2 linked regions of the Homo sapiens genome follow. The protein of the gene in region 2 purifies or fractionates together with the protein of the main gene of each other region. This does not show direct contact. Each region holds a gene or a part of one and is shown on either strand. Other genes may lie near its edges.

Region 1 (4,047 bases), on a different chromosome or scaffold from region 2:
CAGGTATACCTATGTAACAAACCTGCATGTTCTGCACATTTACCCTAGAACTTAAAATATGATAATAATAATAAAAAAAGATTCCTATGACTATCTTAACTGTTAGCACCATTACTAAATTTCTGACTGATGGCTGAATATCTACACGTGAATGTTTTCATGTCACCTTCAACTCAAACTCATTATCTTTTATCTGGACAACTGCAGCAGTCTCCTAATTGGTTATCCAGATGCAAACCTCTCTGCTTTAATCAACAGAAACCAGGGTGCGCTAAGTTCAAACCAGAGAATAGGAACATGTATCTATGAAGATCAATAGGACTTCAATAGTTCAATGCCATGCAGTCTTAGCACCTAAGATCTCCATTTGATTAGTATTGCTTTAAGTAACATGTAAAAGACACCTTCCAAATTCTTAAATATCAAGTTCCATAAATACTGAAAACCGTAAGTTAAAAATGAAGCACTACAATCATACATTAAAATACATGACAGCATCATTTTAGAAAGTGCACAATTTATTACATTTATGAGTTCATAATAAAATGGATACTTAGGAACTTTAAAAATGAGTTAGAAGTAACAATTAGATGTAAAATTCTCAAATCTTGGAAACTGAAATATTAAATTCTAGAATTTTCTTAAAAACTCTTTCTTATGAAAGAGAAATTTGCATAGTTTGAAAATTATTATGTCCTTTCAAGGGAAAAAGGAGGAATTAAAAAACAGACACATTGATGAAGGCAATGAGTTCTTCTCAGCTGGTTTATTCTCCACTGAAGCTCAATATAGGATTATATTTTCTTTACTTACAGGAAGTGGTCACTGCTCTGTTTTCCAATAACCCTCAAAACAGAACAACAATGCTTACGCGAAATAACACAAGCCTTAACTATTATACTTTGCAGGCTTTACCATTTCAATACACTTCTAGTCCAACTGCTTTCCCAACTCTAAAGTTCTGTGAGTGAACTATGAATATTTTTAAATATTTTCCAGATTCATCAGGGAGGCTGCTTTTCTTCTCTGCACTGTAATCACACTGAGCTGCAATTAAAATAAACAATCGGTAAGTAGTTACTTTTTCTGTGGAAAATCTTAGATTAATACAAAGAAGAATGCATCACAACCTATAAGTACTGAAATGGTCTTATTGGAAAGGGTTTTGTAAATGATCTTTTTCTTTTTGAGGCAATCTTGCTCTGTTGCCCAGGCTGGAGTACAGTGGTACAATCACAGCTCAATGTAGCCTTGACCTCCCAGGATCAAGTGATCCTTCTACTTCAGCCTCTTCAGTAGCCACTACACCTGGTTAATTTTAATTTTTAATTTTTTTCAGAGACAGGGTCTCACTACGTTGCCCAGACCAGCCTTGAACTCTTGGGCTCAAGCAATCCACCCACCTTGGTCTCAAAGTACTGGGATTATAGGTGTAAGCCACTGTGCCCAGTCAGTGATCATTTTAAAATTAATTTCTATTTTACTCTTGAAACTTTAAAATGTCTATTAATTTAGAGAAATGCAGGTCAAATAAGACATTCTATAGCTCAGGGTGATACGCTTAGAATTGTAAAACATATTCCAGATGGATGAAAAACATCTACATAAAAGTTAATCAGGAAAGTTTCTAAAACACAAACTAATGTAAGCCAACACAATGCAAGGCTGATAATAAAGTGATGATAGATTATAACAAGTCTAATAGAAAAATAATCTTTAAATGTTAGTAGGAATTAATAACATATACACATAGTAAAAAAAGATCTAACAGTACAAAACGGTAGACAGCATAAAGGAAGTCTCGTTCCCATTGCTGTCTTTCATTCCATAGACCCCTCTCCAGATACAACCACTATTTCCAGTTTTAAAGTATGTTTCCGTAAATATTTTAAATGAGAATATATGTATTTCTTCATTCCTTTAATTTAAAAAATGATGAAAGTATTATAAACACTTTTCATCTTGTGTTTTTCTTCTAAATAATCTACCTTAGAAATAGCTCTATATTAGGCCTACTATACTTTATTCCTCTTAATAGCTGCAAACTGTTCCTCTGTGTGAATACTCCATATAACCAGTCTGCTATTGTTGGGTATTTGTATGGTTTTTAATCTTTTAAAAGGAGAGACAATGCTTCAATCAGTATTTTTATATGTTTGCTTCCTGGCAAAAATGTTTCCAGGTGCAAGTGTGGGTCAAAGGTTATATACATTTACAGTTTTTGAAAGATACTGCCAAACTGTGCTCCGGAGACTGTACCAACATGTGCTTATATCAATAATATGTGAAAGTGCCAGCACAATGCATTTCCAAACTTCATGATCTGATAGGTAAAAAATGATGTGATTACAGTTTAAATTTGTATTTGTCTTATAGGTGAGGATGAACATCTTTTTAAATGTTTAAAAGCCATCTGTCCTTCTTTCTCCATAAACTTCCTTTATATATTTGTCTACCGGACTGTGGCATTTTTTGAAAACTTAGGTATCCTTTATATGTGTTTAGGGCATTAGCCTTTTGTCATATATGGTACAAATATTTTTCTCGGTTTGTCACTGACTTTATGACTTTTTCTGATACAGAAATTTGAAACTGTGATTATATTTATTAATTTTTTTCTTAGCTTCTAGGTTTTGTGTTCTTGCATTGAAAGGCTTCACCACGCTGATTTAAAAAACTCATATGTTAACAGAACACAGTATGGCATTCAACTATTTAGAGTGATACACTTAGAATGGATGAATAACGTGTAGAGAAAGTTAATCAGAAAAGCACATTTAGAGCACAGTGCATCAGCACGATTCAGGGCTTGTATTGAACCAGTAACACGATGCTGCACTGCACTATGGTAAGTGTGATGTGTCAGAGATGATAATAATTTTTAAATTTTCTTCATTTTGTTAATATGCATTTAGTAGGATATTATTTCTAATAGCACTTTTTCAGTTTTTATAGGAAAATTAGAAGATTCAGAGAGGGTAAAGATAAAAATTAAAAAAATAAAATGTACGTCTTACAAACAAAGTTGATCACTTGGACTCATTTAAAACAGAAAAAATATTAACTCCAGGGAAGAAATTCCTTTTTGGGTAAGGGAAAAGTGCTGAATAATTACCTTCCATCTTCAAATAAGAACAGAATGGAAGGAGAAAAGCTTAGGGAAAGATTTGTTACAGAACAATTCGTGAAGTGGTTACTGACAAAACATTTTAAAAAGGTTAGTCAAAAGAACGGTGGAATCTTTGCCATTGGAGAGTTTAAACAACAGAAGAAACATCAGTACTAGACTGTTTAGGTTTAATTTTTTCAGGGGAGAAACTAAACTAGATGCTAACTGGTTATATAATTAATGTCCTGTAATCGTTCCCTTTTTACTATAGAACTCAAGGTAGTTGATTTTCGTAGACGTTTTCTTTGCCATTTGCCTTAAAAAAGGTAAACGTGAAGCTTTAAGGATTATGATACAGAAATTTAATTTCTTACATATCTGTCTAAATATCTACTTACCACTATAGGAAATGCTTTACATGTGTTAATTCTTTTGATCCTTTAATAACCGTATGAGGGAGGTATTATTATCCTATATTAAACATGAGGAAACTGAGGCTTAGAGAAGTTGAAATTGCCCAAAGTCACAAGCTTTTACTTAATGGCACTAAATGGCACTAAGCGATTTGCCTGACACCAAAACACATACTTGCCAGATACTGTCCAGTGCACCTAACTTCTGTTACCTTATAACCTAAATACATTCTTGCATAATTAGCTAACCCATTAGTTAATTCATAACTTCATAAGACATAAAAATTATTTGAAAAGGCTGTAATTACTTTCAAGAGGGAGAGTAACAGAAGGATAAATTATTATTAAATTTTCTTTAAGTGGCATGCCATGTTCATAACAGAAGTAGATTCAAAAAAATCTGTAAATATCATGAACATAAACTGAATTCAGCAAGCAGAGTGGCTTTACTATGTATAAAATGCTGTAATAGTTAAGAATAATATTAATTTTGATTGAAATAATACATTTATAAGCAAATATAAT
Region 2 (3,967 bases):
ATACTAATCCACAAAAAATAAAAATTAAAACATAGAAAGTGAGAAACTATTTTTATCTGTGCAAATTTCACATTGCTGATCTTCCCAAAAATTATTTTATTAACAATAAACTTTTACTAATAGCATTGTACATGCTCAATGCATAAATCAAAGATAATAAAAAGGAAAAACATTTTATATTAAAACAAATGTCCTCAAATAACAAATTTTATATTTTGTACATAATTTCAGATAACACAAGACCATAGTCTATGTGTATGTATAGTCAAACTGAACTTTACCCTCAGTTGGTACACCAAAATACATTTTCAAATGTCAACATACTTCTGTATATATTTCTACCTTGAGTGGTCAACTATTATCCCATGCTGTAAACTCACTGAAATGTATTTATAAAAGCCATTAAATGGATTCTTTTTAATACACTGATATTTTAAGAAGTGCTCAGAAAAGAAATTGCATGTATGTTTCATTATTTTCTAAAAATATTTTAGTATAATAGAATTGATCACTAATGGGCATATACAATTTTTTAAATATGGTACTTACCATCAAATTGTCTATTTGAAAAGTCATCTGCAACTTAAACTTTAAGGAGTACTATAAATATCACTGCTTTTTATCCTCACAAACTTTGTGGATAGAAAACAGTATTTGATTCCTTTTTTAACTTAAATGCCTTCTCTAACCAGGAACACTAAATATTATTTCCTGTGTGCATAGGTCAGTTGCAGATCTTAAAAAAGGACTTTGCCCAATTTTTAGATCTGCAATTTAGATCTCTAATTTAAATTTCCCAATTTTAAATTAGAGGGTTTTTTGTTGATTTGAGTGAATTCTCTATAAAGCGAAGATTTTTAAATCTAATATGTATACACACACACACATACATATGTAGTAAATATTTTTACAAGTATGCTGCCCTTTATTTTTTCTCATATGCAGGGTGACTTAATTTCTGTTTTACTAAATTGCCCTTCAGAGTGCTTGCTTCTGAGCTTCTTAAAAAGGTTTTGTCAAGATAAAAATGTATCTGTGTAAATAGGCATTTATATTTTCTTCCGGTATTTTTATCATTTTGTACATTAAAAACTTTTAATCTATATTCCATCAGGAACTTATTTTGTGGCACAAAAATCTAGTTTTCTCCAAAAAGCAGGCATTTCACTTAGGAAACTAATTCTTTTCCTGCTAGTATAAAGTGTGACCATTACCAAGTTCTAAATTCTTACATATATTTGGGTGTTTGTGGATTTTCTATTCTGTTGTATTTATTTACCTGTCTTTTCAGCTGTTAGCGAACAATTTGTGATTTTTTTTTTTTTTTTTTTTTTTTTTTTTTTTTTTTTTTGAGACAGAGTTTCACTCTATCACCTAGGCTGAATTGCAGTGGTGGGATCTCGGCTCTCTGCAATCTCCGCCTACCGGGTTCAAGCGATTCTCCCGCCTCAGCCTCCCCAGTAGCTGGGATTACAGGCACCCGACATCATGCCCGGCTAATTTTTGTATTTTTGTAGAGACGGCGTTTCACCATATTGGCCAGGCTGATCTTGAACTCCTGACCTCAGATGATCCACCTGCCTCCGCAGCCCAAAGTGTTGGGATCACAGGCGTGAGCCACCACTCCCGGCTCATCTTGTGCAAATTAATACCACATTTTGATATCTAGAAGGGCAAGACTTTTTTACTCCATTACAAAATATTTAAAATGTCATCACAATAGTAAAAGACAGCCTGTGTAATTTAAAAAATGTTAAAACGTTGATAACTTTATTTGGTTTATGTAAAACTGATAAAGAACTCGCATCCTGAGAAAAATGAGTCTTCTTAAATTCAAGAACATAAACCATCTTCCCACCTCGAAGTTTCCTTCTAAGGTCCCTCAGCAAAGAACATATTTACATAGACATTCATTGATATCAAAATGGATATTGGACTCTATCCAGATAATTTTTAGCCAAGAAGTACATATATTATGGGAATTATTTCATTACGCACCATTTCATAATGTATCTAACATTATCTTTTAAAACCTGTACATTAAATGTAAAACCCTGTATGTACTTAATTTTGTGAGTTAAATCACTTTAAAATTCTCTACACAGTCCTCTGTGAGAGGAAGTGGGAGTGAAGGAGAAAGCAGCTAAAGTTTGGGGTTGATTTTAAGGTGGCATGGGCCCTCCGCCCTGCAGGGACCCCGCATCCCAAGCCTGGGGGCCTGCCCAGGAAGAAGGCCTAGACCCGAGGGCCCAGGATGGCTGCCCCGCTGCCCGTTACTCCTCCACCTGCTCCCTTCTTCCCCAGGCCCCCCAGCCCCCGACTCTGAAGGGGCGATCCTCCCACCGCCCCCACCTCCTCCTGCAGCCCCGGCTCAGGCAGGGCCTGGTACCTCTTCTGGGCGTCTTGTATATTAAGGTTGATGGTCTTCTTCCTCTTTGTCATCTTCTCCAGCTTCCGGACTTGTCCCCGGGAGGCAGCTTTATGGATCTTTCTAAGATCCCCAGAGTGGACGATGTAGGAGTCGTTGCTGGTATAGACTAGCTGGCTGAAAGGGCTCGGGCGCTCCGGGCCCGGCACGACCTTGACAGCGGCGGCAGAGATCTCCTCCATGGCTGCGGCCACCTGCTAGAGAGTGCCCGCGCCTCCCGATCGCCCTTCCCAGCCACCACCCCCCACCCCTCCCCAATCGCCCTCGCCCTTCTTCAGTCCACGCACCGCCTCGATACCCGTAAAAAGTTCTGTGTTCGCCAAGCTCTTGCACACTCAGGCCTCTCTCAGTAGAATCGCGCTGAGCAGAGCCGTTAGCCAGCAGCGCATGCGCAGCTCAGCAGGCTGAGGAGACACGCGCCCTGGCCGCGTTCTCCGGGCACCGCGTGCAGGTGGCAACTGCCGCTGAGGCACTGCGAGGCTGGCGGGCCTCCCTGGAGCGGAAAGTGGGGGGCGCCATGCCACATGGCCCGCTTGACATAGCCGCCCCTGGCCCCTCCTCGACCTGCGATCCAGGAGCCGGACCCTGATGCTGGGCACGGTGCAGCCTCTTGGGTGGCACTGAGTGTCGGTTCCCGCCCTCCTGCAGCCAGGGACCCACCCCCTGACTTAGGCGCCCTGGAGGCTTCTGGCCCAAGGATCCGCGCTGCTGGTGACGCTGACAGGGTCGAGGTTGCAGCCCCTGCTGCCGCGTGCCATGTTCAGGTGGGAGCTGCACCTGAGTCCACGGTGGAGGCTAATCTTGTATTTTTTTAGTAGAGACGGGGTTTCTCCATGTTGGTGAGGCCGGTCTGGAACTCTTAGGCTCAAGCGATCTGCCCAGGATCGCAAAGTCCTGATCCCAGGACTTCGGAAGGCTGAGCGGGGCAGATCGCTTGACCCTAGGAGTTCCAGAACTGCCTGACCAACATGGAGAAATCCTGTCTCTACTAAAAAAAAAAAAAAAAAAAATACAAAATTAGCCGGGCATGGTGGCACATCCCTGTAATACCAGCTATTCAGGAGGCTGAGGCAGGGAAATGGCTTGGACCCGGGAGGCGGAGGTTTCAGTGAGCCGCCCGTGGCCCCTCCTCGACCTGCGATCCAGGAGCTGGACCCTGGCGCTGGGCACCGTGCAGCCTCCGCGGTGGCACTGAGTGTCCGTTCCCGCCCTCCTGCAGCCGGGGACCCACCCCCTGACTTAGGCGCCCTAGAGGCTTCTGGCCCATGGATCCGCGCTGCTGGTGACGCTGACAGGGTCGGGGGCGAGCCACCACGCCAGGCTGATGTATTCCCTTCTGATGAATAAATTGACTGGGTGCCAGTTTATCACTAGAAAAGATGGATTACCTCACTAAACCACCTTCCAAACCTCTCCTCTCGGTTTCCTGCATTGGTTACTTTTTTTTTTTTTTTTTGAGACGGAGTCTCGCTCTGTTGCCCAGGCTGTAGTGCAAGGGCGCCATCTCGGCTCACTGCAACCTCTGCCTCCCGGGTTCAA

What was found. Proteins that work in one complex are often made in the same cells at the same time.
Region 1: the proteins of ANKRD30A (region 2) and SCLT1 purify together in Homo sapiens (affinity purification with mass spectrometry; one large-scale study listed by BioGRID and IntAct). This does not show direct contact.

Annotation. Positions count from the first base shown.
Region 1 is NC_000004.12:128,883,493-128,887,539, forward strand, and holds the end of SCLT1 (sodium channel and clathrin linker 1), read right to left. Parts: intron 1,048-4,047; coding exon 985-1,047; 3' UTR 501-984; downstream 1-500. UniProt on the Homo sapiens protein: Adapter protein that links SCN10A to clathrin. Regulates SCN10A channel activity, possibly by promoting channel internalization.
Region 2 is NC_000010.11:37,124,431-37,128,397, reverse strand, and holds the start of ANKRD30A (ankyrin repeat domain-containing protein 30A), read right to left. Parts: upstream 2,801-3,967; 5' UTR 2,611-2,800; coding exon 2,390-2,610; intron 1-2,389.